3 separate regions of the Homo sapiens genome follow, and all the other regions are linked to region 2. The links come from fine-mapping of genetic effects on gene expression. A gene starts in region 2. Each other region holds a variant in brackets. All regions are shown on one strand. Distances are between the middles of the regions.

The links. PIP is the estimated chance that this variant, and not a neighbour inherited with it, causes the effect. A credible set is the group of variants that fine-mapping cannot tell apart.
Region 1: its variant is the best candidate, but not a certain one, in a credible set for the expression of PJA2 in whole blood (INTERVAL, PIP 0.57).
Region 3: its variant is the best candidate, but not a certain one, in a credible set for the expression of PJA2 in whole blood (INTERVAL, PIP 0.89).

The regions. Positions count from the first base shown.
Region 1 is chr5:109,348,274-109,356,583 of GRCh38, reverse strand. PJA2 (praja ring finger ubiquitin ligase 2) reads left to right here. Exons shown (of 10, transcript NM_014819.5): 7 at 558-669. Among named protein-coding and RNA genes, the nearest start is that of PJA2, 58 kb to the left of the region's middle. The variant A/G (reference allele first, on the strand shown) is at 4,956.
Region 2 is chr5:109,405,443-109,413,752 of GRCh38, reverse strand. It overlaps PJA2 (praja ring finger ubiquitin ligase 2), which reads left to right and starts at 3,779. Exons shown (of 10, transcript NM_014819.5): 1 at 3,779-3,911. RefSeq lists enhancers at 3,145-3,324, 4,435-4,554, 4,595-4,694 and a silencer at 3,835-3,914.
Region 3 is chr5:109,329,258-109,337,567 of GRCh38, reverse strand. PJA2 (praja ring finger ubiquitin ligase 2) reads left to right here. Exons shown (of 10, transcript NM_014819.5): 10 at 212-2,846. The coding sequence ends at 337. Among named protein-coding and RNA genes, the nearest start is that of PJA2, 77 kb to the left of the region's middle. The variant C/T (reference allele first, on the strand shown) is at 3,710.

The DNA.
Region 1 (8,310 bases), 57 kb after region 2:
AATCGGGTGGGGAAATGTACTATATCCCTCACCTGAAATGTTTGGTACCAGAAGTGTTTGGGATTTGGGATTCTTTTCCTAGATTTTGGAATATTTACATATACTTCCAGTTGAGCATCCCAAATTTGAAAATTCAACATCTAAAATGGTTCAAAATCTGAAACTTTTTGAGTGCCAGTATGATGTACAAAGGAAATACTCATTGGCACATTTTGGATTTCAGATTTTCAGATTTGGGATGCTCAACCTGTACCTTTAAGCAGTCTCTAGAGTTAGAGCTAGAAACACAAAAGAGAATTTTTCTACAAATTTTGTGCATTGAGTTTGGCAGCCTGTTGGATGAGGTAGTGGTATCTTAACTACTCATCTTTAGCACCTCACTTTTCTGTTGGGTCCCTCCTGCCCCTAACCCTACAAGTTGGTATTAAAATATTTTAAGGTCTTCTGTTCACAGCATGTTTATCGGCTTGTCAGTATGCTAATATAATTATGTCCTCAGCATAAGATTTCCCAAATCATAGTGGTGAGTTTTTTCTGTTATTTTTTTTTTTTTTCAGCCTATTTGATGGCTTTGCAGATGGACTAGGAGTTGCTGAAGCTATTTCATATGTGGATCCTCAGTTCCTTACCTACATGGCACTAGAAGAACGCTTAGCCCAGGCTATGGAGGTATGTTCATAACTCTGATCTCCATATATAAGTTGATGGGATACAAAATGATAAAGGTTTAAAGGGATTTTTAGACTACTCTTAAGAAAAGGTGAATCTTTTTCCCATCAGTTTAGTAACAGTTATTGAATAATAATTGTCACCAGTATGTGCATACAAATTATACTTGATGTCCTGCTAGTTTGCCTTAAATTTCAGTATTTCTCAGTTTTTACTGCAGAATGGAAAATGTTTTGCTTACATTTAGAAAATATACTTTTTTCTCTATTGAATTATACAAGTATGAGAGTGAATATCTTATATACACACGCACAGGTGTATTTGTGAAATGCAGTTGAAGCTAAGGATATATTACAAATCTCTTTTTTTCTCATGGCTTCTAAATACTATCTGGCTGCCTAATGCAGTTAGGAAATTTGCTCCTCCTTATCCCAGCAAACATATACACACTTTAATAAGTGGGGCATATTTGCTGCCTCAGCTTCTCTTGCCTTCTTTTCATTATTTAACTAAAACAGAAAAACCTGTTCTTAAATGTATTTGCCTAAGTTCAAAGCCCAAGTATTTTCATGTTTGGGAACTACTACTGTACCAGTGGATTTCATTAAAAGAAGTCCTTTCAAATCACTATTTCCAAAGTGATTTCCAAAATATAGGTACAGAAATGACTGGTGAATGAGCCACAGGTGAGAGAACAAAAAATTGGCAAGAACTTTTAGGAGCATTATAATATATTTTGTCTTTAAATTTTCTGAGATTAGAAAGTCCAGTTTGTATATTTATTTATTTTTGAGACGAGATCTCACTCTGTCACCCAAGCTGGAGTGCAGTGGTGCAGTCATAGCTTACTACAGCCCTGAACTCCTGGGCTCAAGCAATCAGCCCACCTTAGCCTGTCCCAGGTAGTGGGGACTACACATACGGGCCATCAGACCTGGTTTTGGTTTTTTGTGGGGTTTTTTGGTAGAGATAGGGTCCAATTATGTTACCCAGGCTGGTCTCAAACTCCTGCCCTGAAGCAGTCCTCCCACTCTGGCCTCCCATGGCACTGGGATTATAGACATGAGTCACCATGCCCAGCCAGAAAGTCTAGTTTAGATTGACAAGTTAGATAGCAGGTACCTATCTAATATTGATATATTTAATAATATATTTATATATCTAATATATTACCTCTCTCTAATATATAATATATATTAGATATATCTATTAGATAAATTTGTCTTTAAATGATCTCTAATATATTGTATATTATATATTAGATATATAACATATATCTAATATATCTAATATCGATAGATATTAGATATCGATATGTAATATCGATATAGATATCTATAGATATTATAGATATCTAATATCGATATAGATATCTATAGATATTATAGATATCTAATATCGATATAGATATCTATGATATTATAGATATCTAATCTATAGATATCTCTAGATATCATAGATATCTAATCTATAGACATCTCTAGATATCATAGATATCTAATCTATAGATATCTCTAGATATCAGAGATATCTAATCTATAGATATCTCTAGATATAGATATCCAATCTATAGATATCTCTAGATATCATAGATATCTAATCTATAGATATCTCTAGATATCATAGATATCTAATCTATAGATATCTCTAGACATCATAGATATCTAATCTATAGAAATCTCTAGACATCATAGATATCTAATCTATAGATATCTCTAGATATCATAGATATCTAATCTATAGACATCTCTAGATATCATAGATATCTAATCTATAGACAGCTCTAGATACCATAGATATCTAATCTATAGATATCTCTAGATATAGATATCTAATCTATAGATATCTCTAGATATCATAGATATCTAATCTATAGATATCTCTAGATATCATAGATATCTAATCTATAGATATCTCTAGATATCTATCTAATCTATAGATATCTCTAGATATCATAGACATCTAATCTATAGATATCTCTAGATATCATAGACATCTAATCTATAGATATCTCTAGATATCATAGACATCTAATCTATAGATATCTCTAGATATCATAGACATCTAATCTATAGATATCTCTAGATATCATAGACATCTAATCTATAGATATCTCTAGATATCATAGACATCTAATCTATAGATATCTCTAGATATCATAGATATCTAATCTAGATATCTAGATATAGGTATCTAATATATAGATGTCTGTAGATATAATAGGTATCTAATATATAGATGTCTGTAGATATAATAGGTATCTAATATATAGATATCTATGATATAGGTATCTAATATATAGATGTCTATGATATTATAGATATCTAATATATAGATGTCTATGATATTATAGATATCTAATATATAGATATCTATGATATTATAGATATCTAATATATAGATATCTATAGATATTATAGATATCTAATATATTAGATATCTATAGATATAGGTATCTAATATATAGATATCTATATATAGGTATCTAATATATAGATGTCTATAGATATAGGTATCTAATATATAGATGTCTATAGATATAATAGGTATCTAATATATAGATGTCTATGATATTATAGGTATCTAATATATAGATATCTATAGATATTATAGATATCTAATATATAGATGTCTATGATATTATAGGTATCTAATATATAGATATCTATAGATATTATAGGTATCTAATATATAGATATCTATAGATATTATAGGTATCTAATATATAGATATCTATAGATATTATAGATATCTAATATATAGATATCTAGATATAGGTATCTAATATATAGATGTCTATAGATATAGGTATCTAATATATAGATGTCTATAGATATAATAGGTATCTAATATATAGATGTCTATGATATAGGTATCTAATATATAGATATCTATAGATATAGGTATCTAATATATAGATATCTATAGATATAGGTATCTAATATATAGATGTCTATAGATATAATAGGTATCTAATACATAGATGTCTATGATATTATAGGTATCTAATATATAGATGTCTATAGATATAGATATCTAATATATAGATGTCTATGATATTGTAGATATCTAATATATAGATGTCTATAGATATTATAGATATCTAATATATACATATCTAATATAGATATCTATAGATATTAGATATCTGTCCATCTGTGCACACACATGCATGCATATACATGTTCACATACATTTATGCTAGCTCTGCTTTGTCATCACTTTTTTTACATATATAACTGTCCATGGAGATTGCTTTCAATTACGCTTTATGGTGAGTGTTTTTCTCAAAGTAACCATAGCAGAAATACTCTATACTAGGAAAAAAGTCAGAAAGAACATCATGAGATAGGATACAATTAGGATTTTTGCCAAATTATTTAACCTGCCTTGGCAAATTCTGACACATAAGAAATAATGGTATAGCATGGTAACTTGCATCAGAAATACATAAAGATTAAGGATCACTCATTTCGTTGTGCTAAATAACTCTTTGAGTGATCTGTTCTAGGGTCTGATTTCACAACATTTAGTCTTTCATTTTATGCTAGTGGTTTATGATTTCCTACAATATGGAGATAACTTTAAAAAGAAGTGTTGAGAATAAAATGTTTTAGTATTTATTACTAGTGGGGAATGTGACATTTGGCATCTTGAAAGAAGAGCCAGAGAGACTGGTCTTGAGAGGTCATGCTAAGTAAAGGCACTAGCAGTGAACTAAGACAAAAGGCAAGCAAGAGCTTGCAGTCTCAAACATTGTTGGCTTCTACCAATAGTGAACTCAGTGGCATTATTCCTACCAGTCTATACTTCTGCCTGTGTTTAATGGCTTTAAGCATCTCTCTCCTCTAAAGCTTATCAGCTTCTTCACATTTTAGTGCTCTGATTTAATTTATTTGAATTTGATTGAGATGTTTCACTCCTAGAAAATCAATACAGTTGTCTTCCTGTCACTCTTCAGAAATCTGTTTTTCTGTGTTCAGTATGCATTTATTTAATCATTTTTTAAAATGAAACAAAAATAATTTATGATTATTTCTTTTATATTTAACACTAACACTCTTTAAATGAAACAAAAACAAAACAAACTGCTTGTTTTTGTTTGTTTGTTTCTCAAGCAGCCCTATAACTTTTTGGAAGTAGTTGCTTTCATTTCTGTTATTTTCCCAATACTAGATTGGTCATTGTTTTCAGGTAGTGGCTTTTGGTGAAAATACTGGCAGTATGTATTTGTCTCCTTATATCTGTGTCTCTAATTTGAGTGAGGAGAGGGTAAAACCTTAAAC[A/G]TCTTTAACCTTTTGAAACTTTTCTACTTTTCAAAATGGATTTTGAAAAAATCCCCTTGCACATTTATGTTGACATCTAAAATTTTTCAGCATAAATCTAGGTAGTATTAGTTATTTTATCATACTTCTTCGCTAGAAAAATGTTTAAAATTTTTAATATAAAAAGTGGTTAAATTGAGTTACAATTAATAGTATCCAAATAATCAAAAATAAATTATGAATTTTGGTAAGTGTTTTGTAGGAAGTGAATCTAATGAGATGGAGGCATTTTCCTTTCCCAGTTATGAGTGAATTTTATTTATTACCGGAATGAGACATATTTCAGCATAAATTTACTTCTGATTTTCATCTTATGAATGTAAGGTTGAAAAACGTTGTTCACCTAAATAAATTAATAGGAATGGAAGGAGTTTATTATGGCATTGTCACTGAATTCTTTTGAGATATTTGCCCAGAATCACATCAACTTGTCTAGATATTCTTTAGATTCCTTCCGTTTTTTTTTTTTTTTTAAGCAAAGGATTGGAAGCCACCCAAAAGATTTGTTACTTAGTCATTAGAGTTCAGTTCTACCTCAGTACTTCAGATTGTCCCTGTGAATGGGTAAGAAGTATGCTTTTATTTATAAAGTGGAAGAAAGGCAAGTATAAACAGAATGTTAGAACAGAGAACCAGCATGATATACTGCAGGTGCATTCTTATGTGGATCAGTTCGAAGAAAGATTTTACCTATGAAAGCTTATTGAAACTGATTATCTTAAGACTGTCCATACCCACGGGCCCCTTGTAAAGTCTTTACATACTCACAATAGCACCTGTATACACCCAGGTATAGGCACTAGGAAGGCTGTAATGTGGAGGTTTAGAAGGTGGGCTTTTGTGTTAAAGAGTTTGGCTGTGTGACCTTGGACAATTCACTTAACTTCTCTGAGCTTTAGCGTCTTCATTTACAAAATGGGAATAATAAAATCTACCTGATGGGTTATTGTGAGATTGTGTTAAAGCCTTTAGCAAAATACCTGGTTGTATTGGGAATCTCTCAGTAAATAGTATATTCATATAGGTTTATTCAAATCAATAGTCAACTAACTGGTGTAATCAGTGAACAAATCTGGATTCAGTGGTGATCATTCAGAATCGGTATTACTATCTTCGTTCTTTAAAAACTGAATTGTATTTTATTCTTTAGAACAAAATTTTATGCTGATAAAGGATTATGCTACTTTAAACCTACATGTATTCTAGATAGGGTGATTTAGGCTAGTTGTCTTTCTGCCTCTTCGACTAACTATTGTAAATACATTGTACTGCCTAAAGGTATAGATAGTTTTTTTTTTTTTAATTTTTATAGATTTTCATACTAGTGGCTTAAAAGGCTATCTTTTGCTTGTGTTGCTTATAAGTGATCCTGGATCATCTTAAATATATGACAGTACCAAGGCAATAAATTATTTTTACATATATGAAATTTCAGGTGTTACTAGCACTGCAAATATGCAGATAATCATTAGAAAGAGATAATGAACCCATTGAGACAAACATATATCAAAGCATAATTAGCCTGGAATAACCTCCCCAAATGAAAGTTACTATAAATAACATCCCTTATTTCTGTTTATGTGTAGCACAAATGAGTTCTTGCAAGCAGGTTCTATCTTGAGTAGTACATATGGGGAATTGGAGGAGATTCATAATTATAGCTATGTGAGAAGGAAAGGGACTGATAACAGGATCTTACCTTCCATTTCCTATCTTGCAATGGGAAAGTTCAATATAAGGAATTCTAAACTAGAACAAAGAAGTAGAGTAACAAGGGATTGGCTAGGAGGAAATAAAGATAATTACACAGAATATGGGAAAAGCGCATATAAGGAGCAGCCACCACCTGTCTGGCAAAGCTAGGACAACCCAAGGAAGAGTCCCTAGTCCATCTCAGGGCTGAGGTCACCTTGATGGAAATGGCACAGCTGTGGCTTGCTGTATGAGAGAGAAGTCACTTGGGTATGTGCTGGTGAAACTTGCTGGAAGTCAGCTCTCTTAGGGTGCTGAGGAAAGCTATTCATAGGAAGGTTTCTAACTGGAAGTGCTGTACTGCAGAACTGTCCAACATGGATGCTGGGGGAGGCTGCCACCTACTAAGTGCATTACAGGAACTGGCTGCTAGAGAAGCTGTGTGCACTGAGTCTAGTGCTAGAGAAAGCCACGAACATCACTCTAGTCCCAGTGTGCTCTGTCAAGCAAGCACACTGGGACAGAAGGAAGGCCCTTTCCTCCAGCAGTGTTCTTCAACATCCTCTGTGAACAAAGCTTAGCATCATGCCAGCTGTTAGGAGGGAAAGTATTTAAACAGCCCAGATTTTCACAGAGCCGACACAATAGTGAATATGGATTTGTGGAGCAATAATTCCATAAATGGAACATTCCAGCACTTTGATAACTTGGCTTCCATATATACCTTTCAATGCACATTTAAATTTCCATCCATCAATAGAATTGTATTTCCACCCAACAAAATACAGCTATTACTACAAATGAAGTTTCACCCATTTCCCAGAATGAGCAGATGGCTAGTTCCAAGAGGCATTGTATCCATCGCTAGTTATGCATTACTCCACACATTCATAGTAACACTGAATATTCTCTTATATAAAGACTAAATTGCAAATTTAACTTCCAACAACTGGCATATTGAAATAGAAATGGGAAAGAGGAAAAGTAAACTGTTAACATATATAAATAAGCAGATACATAAAACAAGCACATAAAATATGCAGAATTACTAATCCTTGTTCTGTATTTGCTCATGAGACTGAATGATAGCTATAACTTCTTTCTTCCATGACCCAGTCATATTTTCCCTGCCCTCAGCCAGAAGCTCACTCAGCTGGTTAGGATTCTTTACTTGGTAGAATAACCCAGACCTACACTGTTTATATCTTCAGTTCTTTCTTTTTTTGTCTGCTGTAGTTCTGGTAACTTTACTGTTGGGCATGAAAGCAGTAAGAGATTCACACTCCAGGTGAGATTATCACAGGGTTTTCAAGCAGAGGAAGCCTAGTCTGTGGAGGGCACACTGTTTCTACTGGTAACAGGAGGCTCAGAGTGACTTGGGGATTCAAAGTTATCAGTTTCCTCAGAGTTCAGTCAGATGTCTTCATTCCAGGTTTCAGAATCTTATTCCTTAACCAATCAATGGTAAAACTTTTGAGAAATTTGATGAGACTAAGAAGTCAACTCTAATTTTCATTTAGCAATCCACACAATTACATTTTGCGTTTGATTTTTAGGAGCAAGAGCATCTTTTAGGGCTGTCGTGGATGCTTTCTGGCTCTCATACCCTATTGTGAGGTTTAAG
Region 2 (8,310 bases):
GACACTCCTGCTGGGACCATGACAGTTTACAAATGCCATGGCAACAAGCCATGGCAACAGCCTGAAAGTTACCTTATATGGATCTAAAAACTCCTCACCTCTAGAAAGTTCTAATAATACACCTCTTAATTAGCATATAATTAAAAGTGGGTATAAATACAGCTTCCAACAGCCCATATGCTGCTACTCTGGGCACACTGCCCATGGGTTACCACTGCTTTGCAAGGAGCAGTATCTCTGCTGCTGCTGTACACTGCCACTTCAATAAAAATTGCTGTCTAACACCAGCAGCTTGCCATCGAATTTTTCCCTGGGTGAAACCAAGAACCTTCCTGGGCTAAGCCCCAGTTTTGGGGCCCTCTTGCCCTGCATCAGTTTTGAGTGTTTGGTTAAGCTGTATTTGGCCCCACCTGTTTCCACTGCCTAAGACAGTGGCAAAGTTAATCAATGTTTTTGTTTTTGACAAATGACCCCTGGGGAAAAGTCTTTGCACTGGGTGAGCCTGGAGTGAAATCAAACAAAGGCAGCCTTGTAAAATCTGCAGAACCACCAGATAGGTCAAATAATGACAGTTCTCTGGAAATTAAGCTCTTTAAAGGAGCTCCAACACCATTCTACTTCCCCTACTGGCTACCAGCCTGCTCGTTTTCACAATTGTGGGCTGTTGGTTTTCAAAGCTACAGTGGAGCTGGACATGTGGCTGTTAGAGTAGGGCAAGTCAAAATGACACAAAACTGGCTGTTCTTAGAGATTCAGCTATTTGAATAAATACTCCCTGGATTGCTGCAAACCTTTGGTAAATTTTCAGAGTTCTAAAAAAGTTAGTTCTGACAATTTTGCCAGTGTTCTCATTGCTGAAGAGAATTTTCAGAGGTCCTTACACCTTCATTTTGGCTGACATCACTTTAAGGCTATGATTAGAACATAGATCCTCTCACTCCTTGACCAAGCCTTCTTCTATTTAAATTAGTGGTCATCAAACTTTACGTATGTCAGAATTACCTGGAAGGCTTGTAAAAATACAGCTGGGCAACATACCTAGAGTTTCTGATTCAAGTCTGAGGTTGAACCTGAGAATTTGCATTTTATGTATTTATTTATTTTTTATTTTTATTTTTTTGAGACAGTCTCACTCTGTCACCTAGGCCGGAGTGCAGTGGCGTGATCTCTGCTCACTACAGCCTCTGCCTACTGGGTTCAAGGGATTCTCCTGCTTCAGCCTCCCGAGTAGATGGGACTACAGGCATGTGCCACCACGCCCAGCTAATTTTTGTATTTTTGGGTACAGACAGGATTTCACTATGTTGGCCAGGCTGGTCTTGAACTCCTCAAGTGATCTGCCCACCTCAGCCTCCCAAAGTGCTGGGATTACAGGCATGGGCCACCACGCCTTGCCAGAATTTGCATTTTTAAAAAGTTCCTAAGTAATGCTGATGCTGTTGGTGTAGGGATTATAATATACTTTAGGAACCACTGCAGTATATCATGTAGTACCTTCAATCCATTGCCTTAGATAGTGCTTCCCAACCCTGGAATCAACAATAATACATATAAGCGAATAATACATACTATTATCTCTATATAGTAATACAATACATAAGCTAATATGTATTTAGTACTTCATTGTAGGTATGATATGCTTTACATTGATTAGGTTATTTAATCTATACAACTCATGAATTGGTATTATTACTTTCCCATATTTATAATAAACTGGAAATCGAGGTCAGAGAACAAAGTAGATTGCCCAGAGGCACACGGCTACAAATGCAGGAGCCAGTATGTGAATATGTCTGCTTGATTCTAGAGTACAGGCTTTTTCAGCCTCCATACCAGTGTTTCTCATAGTAACATAGATCACTTATGATGCCTTGGTTAACTGTAGTTGGGACACGCATGCAGGATTAAAAACAATGACTCATATAGTGAGAAAGTGATTGCTATTCCGGCTCTATTTTTTCTATCCTTTGATGACATCATGATAAAAATACCATTTGAGTGCTGTATCTTTAATGTGTGTCTAATGCTTGGTAGCTTGCCCTTTTAACAAAGACAGTTGTCTTTAGACTTAGAGCCTTTAGTGGACAACAGTTTCTAGCCACAATTTAAAAACATTGTTTTGCATTCATTTTTCTTACAGTTACTTTCAACTTATAATAGGTGATGCTAGTTTTCCATTTATAGTACTTTTATAAAGTCTCCTTCTTAAAGAAATTAAAGAAAATATACATTTATTTAAAGAAAAAAGGACAGTGAGTAGTATACACAGATACAGTATGAAAAAGGTTGAAATTTGGGAATCCCTGCCTTCTAGAACAGGTTAATGTATCCAGTTGGGCCAATCTGGAACACCCTAAAGGGAAACTAGGGAAATGTAATTAAAATATGAATTTTGTTTTTTTTCAAAGAGGTACTTGGATGGTTAAAGTCAGAACTCCTATAGCAACACGTGTGAAGGCAGAGTAATATCAAGCAAGGAATGGTTTTTTGGTAAGAAACGTACTACAGGAGTGGGCTGGGATTCAGATTGGATTTCACAAAATGTCTGGCAAATTCTCATAAACCTAAATTTCTACAGTAAATTTTGGGTAATTTATTTCCATCAACAGCAAAAAAAAATTAGTCTCAGTTCACTGGCAAGAGAGTTCGCTGTTGTTAAGGGGACAGCACAAGAAGTGGGGCTCTTAATTCGCGGGGGAGGGGTGGCGATGAATATATCCTGGGCATCAGGCGACGGGTCGGGGGTGGGGAATAAGAGAAGACAGAGGGACTGTAATCAGATAAGCGGACACGTTTCAAGATGAATAAAGGGAATATGTGCGGAACGAAGAAACAGTTTTGTATCACTGACATAATTAACTAAACTGTTACCCAGGTTTAAATTAAGCAAGGTGTCCGGGGACTGCAGCTGTTGTATTTATTTTGGTTGCATGTGATGGGAGCTGTTACTTCCCGGCTTGACAAACAGCCTCAAGATGCAAGCTGGGAGGCTGTGGTCAGCCCAAGGCTATACAGAGGAAAGGCAGGCCTCCTCTGAACCCCGCCCCAGCAGAATAAGAAGCGAGGGGCAAGGGTCAGCGCGGAGAGGGAGGGTGGAAAGCGCCATATAGTGCCCAGGGTCAGGGTGGGTAAACAAGCCTTTCTTCGTGTCATTTTTTTTTTTTGTCTCACCGATATCTGCATTGTAACTGAACTTTATGCCAGGAGACCTTAACCTTGTTAATCAGGTTTCCAGTCGAATCAGGATCGATTTTAATGCCTCCATTTTGGTTGTTGCTGTTGGAATTTCCGAAAAAGCCTAACTGCGCCAGTCTTTCTGTTAGTTCTCCACACCCCCTTCCCTTTCCGAGACCCCGCCCTTTTCTCTCAGCCCAAACCACAAAAGGCCGCGCAGTTTTAGCTCCTACACGGTGCTCCGCCCCCTCCCCAAACGTCGCAGTACTGCAGGGAAAGGAGGTGGGCTCGGCTGGGGCGGGGGACTGAGTCGGCTTCGTCTTTCCGCTCTTCAGCCAATTGGTGAACTCCCCCTGAGGGAGATGGGGGAGCAGGCTGTAGAGAAGGTCCAAGTATTTTTCCCTTTTTCTGCCACGTCCCAACCATTGACGTGAGCCCACTCCTCAGGTTCTGATTGGGCGTATGCATTGTCCCCCAGCAGAGACCCTGTAAGCTGACTGGTCATCTCTGCTATGGGGGAGGGGCTTGCGTACTCTCCTCCTTCGCCTCCACCGCGGCGCAAGGGGCGGGACTCACCGCCACCGCCTCTGCTTCCGCCGCCGCCACCGCCGCCGCCGCCGCCACAGCCGCCAGCCGCTTCGCGTTCGGCGGGGGAGGAGTTGGAGGCGGAGAAGAAGGCGGTGGTGGCGGGTGGAGGTTCGAGCGCTGTTCTCGCTCCGGAGCCGCTGCACATTTCGGTGAGGGTTTTTTTTTTTTTTTTTCAGTCTGGCTTGTTCCGCTGTCGGGAGTGTGGGGGTCGGGGCGAGGAAATTGCTGCGTTCAGCTCCTCAGTTTCTCTGTCTCTAGCTTCGGAAGGAGCGGGGCTTGTCCCTGGCCTGCTGCGCCGGCCATGGTGGGTGGGGTTGATGGCTGTGGGAGGCCTTCTTCGCCTCCTGGGCCCTGTCCAGCCCGGACCCGGGCCGCGCTCCTATCCGGGACGGTCGCGCCCGCCGCCCCCCGACAGATGACATTGGTTGGTATCGGGGTCTTCGCTGCCGCTCTTTACTGCTGCCTCTTCTGCTGTCCTTGGTGACTTGGCCAAGGAGCCCGCTGGCTTTCCCCTACACTCGCCACTGTACAAGAGTTTGCCCCCCAACCAACACCTCACACCCACCTTCTGCGGTTTCCCGTCACCCCGCGTAGAGCGGAACCATCTTACGCCACAGGCCTGCAGCACCCCTCCCCCGAGGAGCCTTCTGTTGCCGTCGTTTTGCTGGGCGTCTGCATTTTCCCCGATTGTCAGTGAGGCTCGGCACGCAGACACCCCGCTCGAGCCGCAGCAGTCGCTCTACTCCCGGGATCAGCACCTTTCCGCCAGGGCTGCTCTCAGTTAGCGATGTCAGGCCAGAGCTCCTCTTGCAGATGCACCTTTAATTTGGCCTCCCTCAGATGACTGGTAATCATTTTGCGCACATTCAAAATGGTGAGGTTAAAGACGCTCAGACCAAGTTGAAGCAAAGGGGAGGTGGTAAATAGTCGTTTTGCAGGGAGGAGAGTAATCTGAGAGTTCCTTCTCCGGACATTAAAAAAAAAAAAATTTACATCCGCATAGGCGCTTCTTTTGAGTCTGCTGGTTCTGTGAAGTTTAAAATTTTCATTGCAGGCTTAATGTATTCTGTTTTATCATGAAATATTTGGTCACATTTCTTTAAAATGGCAGTCACCTTTGCTGAAGGCTACGGATCATTTGAAGTGTATGTGAATAAACCTGAGGATAACAGTAATAAACGTTTAAACTGTATTTTTCAGTGTTGTAATTGTCTTTTGGGGTTCATGTCATTTTTATATGAGATGACCACTTAATTTTAAAAATTCATTGCAGACATGCAAGTTTGATGTACACTTCAACAATATAAATAACGGACTGTTAGGTAAAATTTAAATATTTCTTTTCATCCCCCAGTCCCACTCCAGTGTAAAGTTGACAGTTTAGTGTTCATTTTTCAAAATCTTGCAAATGCACTTCTAGACACATACAAGTACACGTAAAGTTTTTTTTTTTGAGGGAGGCTATACCATATACCAAACATGTTTGCATACCGCTTGCTTATTGACTTAATTACATATGTTGGACATTTTTACTTTTTACATATAGGTCTCCCTAATACTTTTTAAAAGGCTAACTGGTATCTCGTGAGTTTGAATGGGCTATAATTTATTCTATTCCCTTTTTGAAAGACATTTAATTGCAGTTTCTTTTTGCTATTACAAATGATGATTTATAATGAAAATAACTTTCTAATTTATTGATCGATGTTTAATTACAAATTTTAATTCATCCTTGATTTTAAAAAATTAAACAGTATGGAAGAATGTAAGGTAAAAATTACCGCTTCCACTTCTAGTCCTGCTTGCATCTTGATTGTCAGCCACTGTTAACAATTCAGTAAACTTCCTCTATGTGTGATTATTTCTGGAGCATGGGTTCCTAGAAGTGAAGTTGCTCAGTTAAAAGATTATGCATATTTTAAATTTTGGTAACCCTTTCTCCCTCTTTATTACTCTTGTTGAAAATATTCTTGAATGTTTCTTATGCATTTCTTCTTCTAGGTAAACTTTAGACTGAACTAAAAATCCTTAGCTATTTTGAATAAGGTTATATTGAAATTTTAGATTAATTTGGAGACAACTGATCTTTATAGTATTGAGTCTCTCTCCTCAGAAATGTGGCCTCTCCATTTTATTCACATCTTGTTTTATACTGTTAGGGAAATTTTTATAGTTTTTCTTTTTTTTCTTCATACGTATAACATTCCTTCCTGGTATTCCTATTTTATGGTTTGATTCGTGTGGTGGATGGAAACTTTCAGTAACATTTCTCTCTCTCTGTTTTCTCTGGTTATAGCAAAACTTTTGAGTTTTCTATCATGTATCAGATTATTTTATTGAGTTGATTATCAGGAGATATTCACAGTTTTGTGGTTTCCTTTTCAGTTTTTATAACTTATGTGTTTTTCTCATTGCTTTTGCAATTATACATCTTATAAAATGTTGAGCACTGGTAGATTAAAAACTAATAGCACTGATAGCTAACAACAAACATGGCATTGTTTCTGACTTTAAGGGGGAATGCTTCTAATGTTTTAGCATTAATTATGATGTTTGGTGAAGCTTTCTGGTAAAGCCGCTGATATTAAAATATTTCCTTCTAGTCTTGGCTTTCCAAGATGCTTATGTTGTTGTTTTTGACATTTTTAAAAACCATAAATGAGTTTTCTTATATATATTTTTTTGACATCTTTTGAGGTGGGTATATGTGGGCATCACCAGTATTCCCTGGTTTATATTTTCCTGAGAGAGCACCCTCTTAGAAAATCAACCTTATTGAGGATAACTTAGATACAGTAAAATGTACTTATTTGAAATGTACAGTGTATTTTGTTTTGACAAATATGTGCTCTGTGACCACCACCACAGTCAAGAGTGGAATATTTTCATACCACAATTAAGATATAGAATATTTTCATCTCCCCCAAAGTTCCCTTTTGCAGTCAATCACAATTTCACCCTCAGGACTAGGAAAGCACTTATCATCTTTTTCTTGCTATAAATTGGTATCATTTTGTCTAGAATTTCATGTAAGTGGAATGATGTAATACATACTCTTTTGTATCTGGCTTTTTCTCTTGGCATGTTTTTCAGGATTATCCATGTTTTTCTGTATTTAACGGGTTCTCATTTTATTGCTGAATAGAAGTCCTTGGTATTGATTTACTAGTTTGTTGACCATTCCACCTATTTACAGATACTTGGATTGTTTCCAGTTTGGGGCTGTTATTAATAAATAGCCTTCATTTGTTGAACATTCCTTTATTCAATGAACATTCATTTATTTTGAATTTTTGTGAACATCTTTTTTTTCTTGGTAAATACCTAGACATGGAACTTGTTGGGTTGTATGATACATGGATGTTTATAAGAAACTGCCAAACTGTTTTCCAGAGTGGTTGTCACATTTTACATATCCATCAGCAGTGTATGACAGTTCCAATTGCTCCACATCATCCTCAGCACTTGGTTATTTCAGTCTTTTAAATTTTAGCCCTTTTAGTGGGTATATAGTAGTATCATACTGGGATTTTGATTTGCATTTACCAGATGACTAATGGTGCTGAGAATTTGCTCTAGTGTATGTCTTCCTTTGTGAAGTATCTGTTGACATTTTTTGCTCATTAAAAAACAAACAAACAACAATGGGTGGGCCTGGCGCGGTGGCTCACGCCTGTAATCCCAGCACTTTGGGAGTCCGAGGCAGGCGGATCACGAGGTCAGGAGATCCAGACCATCCTGGCTAACACGGTGAAGCCCCATCTCTACTAAAAATACAAAAAATTAGCCGGGCGTGGTGGCGGATACCTGTAGTGCCAGCTACTCCGGCTGAGTTAGGATAATGGCGTGAACCCGGGAGGTGGAGCTCGCAGTGAGCCAAGATCGTGCCACTGCACTCCAGCCTGGGCGACAGAGCGAGACTCCGTCTCAAAAAAAAAAAAAAAAAAAAATGGGTTTGTCTTATTGAGTTGTAAGCATTTTTTAATACATTCTTTATACAACTCATTTGACACACAGAGATACATAAACACACACACACACTGCAATCTGAAGCTTGTTTTTTTTTTATTTTCCTAACTTTAAAAGAAGAGCTTTTAATTTTGATAAATTCATCTTACCAACTTTTTCTTATGATTTGTGCTTCTGTGTTCTAAGAACTCTTTGCTTAATGCAAAGTTGTGCAGATTTACTCTTAGGATTTTTCTATAAGTTTTCTAGTTTTGGCTTTCATGTCAAGGCACATTATCCATTTTGGGTTAGTTTTTGTATATGGTGTGTAGTAAGGGTCAAGGCTCATTTTCTTTTCAAATGTATATGTAGTTCTAGCACCATTTGTTGGGACTACTTTCCTTTCCCCATTGAATTAACTTTGTCAAAAGTCAGTTGATCATATATGTAAATCTGTTCCTGTACTTTTCTCTTGATCTTTATGCCTATAATTTTGCCAGTACTGAGTTATCATGGTTATTTTTACTTATAAGTATTGAAATTAGGTAATATGAATCCTTGAACTTTATTCTTTTTCAAAATTGCCTTGGCTATTCTAAC
Region 3 (8,310 bases), 76 kb after region 2:
ACATCATTTACCCTCAAAGAAACTAGAGTCTGATTGGGCAGGGAGGAAAAGGTATTAAAATTATGTCTTTCTGCATTGTGTGGATTTGAAGTTTGTTTTTTGTTGTTAAGAGTCTTATTATTAGGATAATGACACTGTTTTTTCTTTATTAAGTTACTTGTGTGGCAGTTAAGATGATTCTGGTGGCTCTTAACATTTTTTTTTTCTCCAGTCGGGAACATGCCCTGTGTGCCGCCGTCATTTCCCACCTGCGGTTATTGAAGCATCTGCAGCTCCTTCCTCTGAGCCTGATCCTGATGCCCCACCTTCAAATGACAGTATTGCAGAAGCACCCTAAACCTTGACAGTTGAAATGAGATCAGTGTATCAAAGTAAATCTGCAAATTCCTTCTAAATTTCATGTGCAAATAATTATATATAAATATATTTAAAAATGCTATATATAGTATATGCCATAGTTTAGAAAGAATATTAACCTTTCTAAACTAAATTTAGGTTTGCAGAAAGTATTAAACATTTTTAAGCTGAATGTTGAGACAGTGCATCCATTTTCTTTAGTTGAATATGTTTGTATTAATTGTAAAGCCAAGCTTATCAGTTGACTCTCTCCAGAATAAATAATCATCTGTGTGGCATACGTTATTGGCTTTGTCTGTAATACTGCCACTAAGTGATTATAATTAAGCTGTCCTGTTTGCATCAAATGTAAAGACTGTGTTCACAACCGTAGTAAAATTTGGTTTCATTGGAAATGAAACAAATTCTAAAGTATGCTTTTTCACTAGTCCCTTTGATTTTGCTATATCATAACCTCTTGGTTCATATGCTGAGAAATTTTTCAGAAAGTCCATTTTTGTTTAAAATTAGAACTTTTCAGAATGCCAAATGAAGGCTAAAATTTTGGCCAGAACATTACAAAAGTTTTAAATCGTAGACGTAACTCCCCCTGAAATAAAGTTAGGTAGTAAAATCCTTAATGAAACCAGTGGATGTGCTTAACGTAAGGTTAGTAAAGCATACAAAGAATCTAGTGTGCTCAGGGCTTGGTACAATGAGCTGAATTAGATGGCCTTATGAAACTCTTTCTAACCTCTTACCCAACCTGTTTCTCCTTGGTTAAAATTATACTTGAAGGCCCAGAACACTCATGGCACATTTGTTTAATATTGCTTATAGTTAGTTTAAGGTAATTTTGCTTCTACAGTATTTTGGAAGGTCTGAAAACTTGCACAGGGTCATCTTTGTAATTATATAACCCCAAACTAAGATGCACAATGTCTCCTTCAGGTGATCACACACAGTGGACGAGTATGTGCAAACATGGACATAATAGTTCACTTACAAATGTGATTTGATGTTAACACTAGAGAATGATGACTGTAGAACATTTGAGCAAGTAAAATAGTAAAGCACATAGTGAGTGTATGTCCGTCTAACTGGTACATTGATAATTTAGTTTGGGCACATAAAAGGAATATTTATATGGCTTCCCAAATGCAGAGTTACATCTTATTCGTGTATTTCTCTGAGTATTTATATCCCGTCTCCTTTTTTCATTCTTAAAAATAAATGAATTTTCACTGTTGGCACATATGAGGCTTAAATATAAGGAACATAACACTTGCATTCTAATTTTTGCATATATTGTAAATGTGTCTGGTATTTACAGCAAAATACTGTGTATCCTTTTATGGGTAAAACAAAAGTGAACATTGCATGCATGTAATGTGATGAATTTGTAATTTAGGAGTTCTTTGGGGCTTCTGTGACTTGGGAAATGCTTACATTCAGGCCTTAATGTTGCATTAGCTAGCATGTTTTCCCTCTGATGTATATAGTCACTGTTGTATAAACTAATCTTTGCTTGTTTTCTACTCTGTGATCTTTCCATATCATATTTCATTAATGATCAGTTAGTGTCAAGGAGTCAAAACAGATTAAAATTAATTTCATGTGTATATGGTGGAAATTTGTGGCTAGTGTGATTTTTGTTTGTTTCCTTTTAAGTACTGTTGATCAGTTGTGACACTTACTGGTTAAACTTACGTTGCTAAAGATTTCTCTATAATAAGCCACACATTATATTTAGACTATATTAAGGGACCTTGGTTTTCTTCTAGATAGCAGCTGTCCCAAAGAAAATATTTCTTCTTTGTCTGTTAAGATTTAGCTATTATCTGCCAGTTGTTAAGAGGTTTTGGTTCCAAACTCAACCAGCAATGTTGAGAGCTGAACTTAAGATAGCTGTTGTACTTTTTGCTTTCCATCTGTTACTGTCCTTCATTCTTGGCTCCCTACTATCTATAAACAGCTGCTGTGAAGAAGAAAAGTTGAATAAGAGTTGGCTTAAATTTTAAAAAAGAAAAAGAAAATTGAGGTTTTAGGATTTTCATGGTAACAAGCTCTGGTATAAGCTAAGGCTGGCAAGTTCAGATACTAAAATATTATTTGATCATATCTTGGATCCTTTTGAAAAAGTTAAGACTATATGAAGGTAAATTAGAAATAAGTATGAATATTAATAAAATAGCATTTATCTTATTTCTCTATTTTATGTTGTGACTTAACCTAATTTTATTTTTTTAACATTTTCTTATTTCTTATAATATGAATGCTGATATTTAAAGGTAGATCTATGTGGTATTCTTTGTGTTTCTTAATTGTTTAACTCTTAAGATTATTTGTGATCTGGATTTATGTATTTGTTAGATACATACGAATTGTTAAAATGGAATGCAAGTTTTTCAAAAGCCCAGGTCTAAATGTAATGGTTGGTTTATTGTTCTATAACCCCAGCCCATCATTTTCTGTGTAAATCATAAACAATAAACAGAATATACTCGGTGGTCATTTCTAATATTTAATTGTGTAATTGTATCACTTCTATAATGTAACCCCTGAAGGATTTAGAGTTAATGACAGATAACACTACTGAGCATGTGATGTTAGAAGTCCTTGAACTATAATCTAAGAAAGCCCTAGAAAGAGCCAGACAGAAGTAGTTGATGGACTTCCTACTGCTGGAGGGTCTCTGAGTCCTTGCCCTCTCCTCCCTGACATCCTTAGCTATCCCGTAGGTTTCAGCAGAACCTGATTTCCACACTGACTCCGGACTGCAGAAACCCTTAATAAGGAAGGGAGCCCACCTCACATCAGTGGTTTTCTCCAAATCAGGCATGGAAATATTATTAAATCTAACTGTTTAGCAAGATTCCTTGTGGTTCTCAAACAGTTCAGAGAACTCAGTCATTTCAGAAGGGTCAATTGGGTGCTGATAAATTACGCAATTCAATTAGACAAAGACTAGCCAGGCATGGTGGTGTGCACCTATAATCCCAGCTATTCAGGAGGCTTGAGGCAGGAGGATTGGTTGAGACCAGGAGTTGAAGAGCAACCTGGGCAACATAGTGAGACCCTATCTCAAAAAAATTTACAAAGTTGGATAAAAACTAATCATTTTGTTTAGATGCTTAGAAAGTTTAGAATTCTGATTCTCCTCTAATAGATTAAATATGTACTAGAAAAATAGTCTCAGAGCTGGAAACATCAGTGGTATACCTCTACTGTTGATGTTTTTATAATTTCATCATCATTTTCATTCAGCCACTGCTGGATGGAGCCATTCAGCACCCCTGCAAGGGATGAATTTCATTGTTGGAAGATTGTCACCAAATTTCTCTATAAACAGCACACGTGAAATTAGAAAGTC[C/T]TGTTTCTCCTGTGTGGTCACCTCTTCATATCCTTCTTCAGGCTTCACGCTTTCTGAAATCTTACATGGTATCTATTCCAGACCAGCCTAGAGTTGGCTCTTTCACTCCTTCTCTTAAAGTATGTTGCTCAGAATTAAACACAGTTCTGTGGTCGAACTAGGGCAGGGTTCAGGAGCACTGTTGCCACCTTCAGAGTGATTCTCCTGTGGCTGTTATGGTTGGTATATGTTATTATTACCACCATCATTATTAGCCAGGCTGTCATACTGTTTGCTGTCTCTTGCTGAGCTTCACAGGTATTGCTGGTAAGCCAAGTCCCCGCCTAATCTTTACTTAAACAATCTCTTATTAACCTAATTGAAGGACAGCATTCATCCTTACTGAATTTGATTTGTGAAGGTTCTTGTGAATTCAGGTTTTTCGTCTTAGCCTTGCATCCATTCCAATTTTGATAAAGCATACCTTTGGTATGTAGTGGCTTTGTCTAAGTTGTTGATACATGTTGAATTGAATGGGATGCAGTACAGACCCTCTTTAGAATGCCACTATACACTGCACTTAAGGTGAGTGATCCGTTAATTAGTAATTTGGTTACAGTTGTTGCGGTAACTACCAGTCACTTCATATGCCCGTTTCTTCATCTTTCCTAAAAAGGACACTAAAAATTTTAGTGTGTTTGGCAGACAGATGCACTATGCACTGTCTTTGGAAGTAGCCTAATGTACTAGTATATTAAAGAAAGGAAATGAAGTCAGCTGGTAACGCCTCATTCTTAATGAAACCATACTGCCTCTTTTTCTAACTCCTTACGTGACATCTGTTTAATAATCTGCCTTAGAATTTGTTAAGTGATCAATGTCAAGCTCATTTTAATAATTTTTGGAGTCCGCCTTTTCCCATCTCAAAATTGTGGTGTTTGAAATAACATGACCTTGACAAAGTCACGTAATCACCCTGCTTCTGTTTTCTCTATAAAGTAATGAATCTAAATTATAGGTTCAGTACTACCACTATTTGTGCATGAATAAGGGTTTGAAAAAAATGTTTTTCATTGATGTGCAAAGTCATAGGGAAATATGTTATACTTGGTTTCCATCATTGTTTATAGCACCACTTTTTGGAGAATGATGAACATTTCAGATAAAACACTCTTAAAAACATATTAATTACCTTTCAAGAGTTGAGAATTTGACGGGAACCTTATTAAGTCAAAATAAAGTGTAATTTTCATAATATTAATTATGAAACCTAACACTAATATAGTTGGTAATTTATTGCATCTTATATTATTAGTATATAATCAATATACAGTTTTTATAGTGAACATTGACAGGGAGGAGGTCTTTATTTTTTTAGAAAGATACTTCTTACTGTCAGTAATTTCCTTAGATTATAACAATGTTTCTTCTTACGAAGATTCATTTTTAAATGCATTTTTACATTATAATAATAGTTTCTATTTATGAAACACTAAATATTAGGCATAGTGTAGGCTTTCTATCTTATCTCATCTTCATAATAAGTCTGCAGGGTTGATTTATTGTCTCAACTTTACAAATTAAAAAAAAAAAATGAGCCCCAGACATGGTCAAAGAGCCCTGGTTCTTAAAGGAGATGCTGTCGGTTCTGTCCACTTCATGCTGCCTTCCTGAGTAGGAACAGCTTACCTGATCAGTGTTATCAGTGTTATTATTTAAGTACATTGCTTGAGATGCAGTCTGTTTTGTTTTTTTTGTTTTGTTTTATCAGAAAAAATTAGGATCTGTTCAGAATTTTGAGAAATATTTTTTCCTTGCTATATTATTTTGCTAACATGTTAAGATATTTGTGTACTGATGACCAAGATTCTAATGTGGCCCTGATTAGTGAAGTTTCTTAGTCACCAGTAAGATCTAATGAGAACTTCCTACCTTTGCCTGGTAATCTGGGATTCTTAAACTGTTCTGCAGAGACTGTCCCAGGCCTGAAAGGTGTATAGCATCCTGTTGTCTCTTAGCCATCAAGAGCTAACTATCCAGACATCTTTCTACAAGCAATTTGTGCTACCCTTTCCAAAGGTCTGGATTTCAGTTCCTCTAGAAGCCATGGACATCTGCCCTCCACAACTGCAAATACTCCAAAGAGTACAGAACCTACTCCCAAGTTGTTTTATTCGTAGGAAGAGACACTTGACAGGGGCTTTCCTTTTGATTTCAATCCTTAATAAATGCCATTTTAAATTCTTTTTTAAAGAATTCTTTAAAAAATCCAGCCGTTTACATTGTGCCCTAGTTCTGTTAGTCTAGTCCCAATGACTTGTGAAGAGAACCCAACTGTTACAGACAGCTGTTAAAAGGGGCTTCTCTACATGCCATCATACCGACTAGCTTTTGGCCCCAACAAATAATTCTTCCTCCTTACCTGGACCAAGGATCCCCCAACCCTGGTATTGCAGTATTCTAGGTTTGGTGCCATTCTAGAGTGTTAGACTTTTTATTTCCGTTTAAATTGACCTTTAAAGCGGATGAAGATAGGGATGAGGAGCTTACAAGATCAGCCTTGTCTGGGAAGCAAGCTCAGCCTCAATTGGATGACGAAGCTATTCACAAGTGAGCACCTTGGTTACAACCCACATCTAAATGAGTAAATACTACCTGAAAGAAAATGTTTAAAAATTTTCAAATTAGGGAGCTTATGAAAATAGTATATTAGGACATATAAAATGGGAATACTTTCTCAATCCACTGAAAAACACCTTCATTAAACCCAACAAATTAAATATTTGTATAACCTGAGCTGCTGTCCATTTAATGTTTACAAAGTGCCTACTCTCACAAACCTGTGAACAAAATAGACAAGATCCCTGGCCTCCTGAAGTGTCCATTGTAATGAAGAGACTGTTAGCGTGCCCACCCCCAGCACAGCTGGATTCACTCAGTAGAGAGGATTTCATCTTAGCTTGGGGAATGCCTGACACACAGAGCCTTAGTGTCTCTTCTGTGATTACCAAAGCTAGAAACAAAAGCAAGGAAAGAATGAGCCCCCTAAGGTGACTTTAGCTACCAGCACCTACTCTCAAGCCCAAAGGATCTATAGCTATATTGAGATAGTTATAGGTTGAAGGGTTGAACCCATCTCCTAAGAGGTCGTATGCCCTATGGACCACAGCAGGCCATGATGACTTACAACCAGGGAAATTTGAAAAGAATTTTTCTTTTTTTTTTTTTTGAGATGCAGTCTCACCCAGGCTGGAGTGCCATGGTGCGATCTCGACTCACTGCAACCTCTGCCTCCCCGGATCAAGCGATTCTCCTGCCTCAGCCTCCTGAGTAGATGGGATTACAGACATGTGCCACCATGCCCCCCCTAATTTTTGTATTTTTAGTAGAGATGGGGTTTCACCATGTTGGTCAGGCTGGTCTCAAACCCCTGACCTCAGGTGATCCACCTGCCTCAAGCCTCCCAAAGTGCTGGGATTACAGGCATGAGCCACCAGCGCCAGCCAAGAGTTTATTTTCTGGAGATGGGGGTGAGTTGAATAGAATAACCAAAACTCCAGTGTTTGACCTTATATCCTGTGCTTTATTTTTGCTTGTTTTCTCCCTGTGCTACAGCATTCACACATATGCATCCAGTGTGGTTTTATCCAGAAAATAGAACATAAAGCAGGCAATTCTGAAGCACGGCTTTTCTGCTGGTCATGTAGGCTCTGATACAAAATATTGTATAATTTTTTTTGTAACTATGCTGGCGTACCAGCACTAACACAATGAACCCTGCAAACTGTCTTACTAAGGGCTTAATAAGGAGTAAGCATCATTGTAAAATTGGCAGACTTGCTGTATTATGACTCACAGAAGCTGAATGGGCCAAGTTAAAGTGCACTGGACATTAAGGGAAATAAATGCTATGCAGATGCACAGCCATGTTAAGACAGTCCCCCCTCTCAACTTAGCAGCAGCACTATGATATAGCAGAGGTGCCAAATCTGAGCATAACCGAGGTTCACTCAGGGAGGACAGAAATGTTGCACAATCCTTTGGGTTCTTCTTTCCCCAACCCCCATTACTGTATAATGCATTTTCTCCCAAAACTAAGGCCCTGAAGAACTGCCTAAAGCTTAATTTATATGTAGGTGAAACTCAGTAGAAGGGGAAGCAGAACAGAATGCTGCATTGGATGAATTTACCACAGTGCCTGCAAGGACCATTCTACCTGAAGGAGAATATCCCTTCTCATTGTCAAGGACTGCAACGGATTCAGGGTTTTTCCCTGCTTGCAAGCTAACAAATTTCCTAGGTCCCAGGAGTATATACAAGACCCCTGGATCAGAGACAAAGGACTTCATTTCTCATAGCACAGTGGACAGCATGAGTTTCATAATTACATCAGTTTGCCTTCCCCCCAATGTCCCTCAGGAGTGCTGCACACACACAGTGTGAGTTTAGTGTCACAGCTGAGGAAATTTGAGCTTAGGAAACCCCAATCTTAGGGAACTGCTAGAAATCTGCCCCAGGACAAGACATTATCCTCATTTTGCCCAGGAAACAAATCTGTCCTCTGACCTGGGAGGAGAGTAGGGGACAATATATCTGTCTCCTAAGACTATTTGCTATACAAA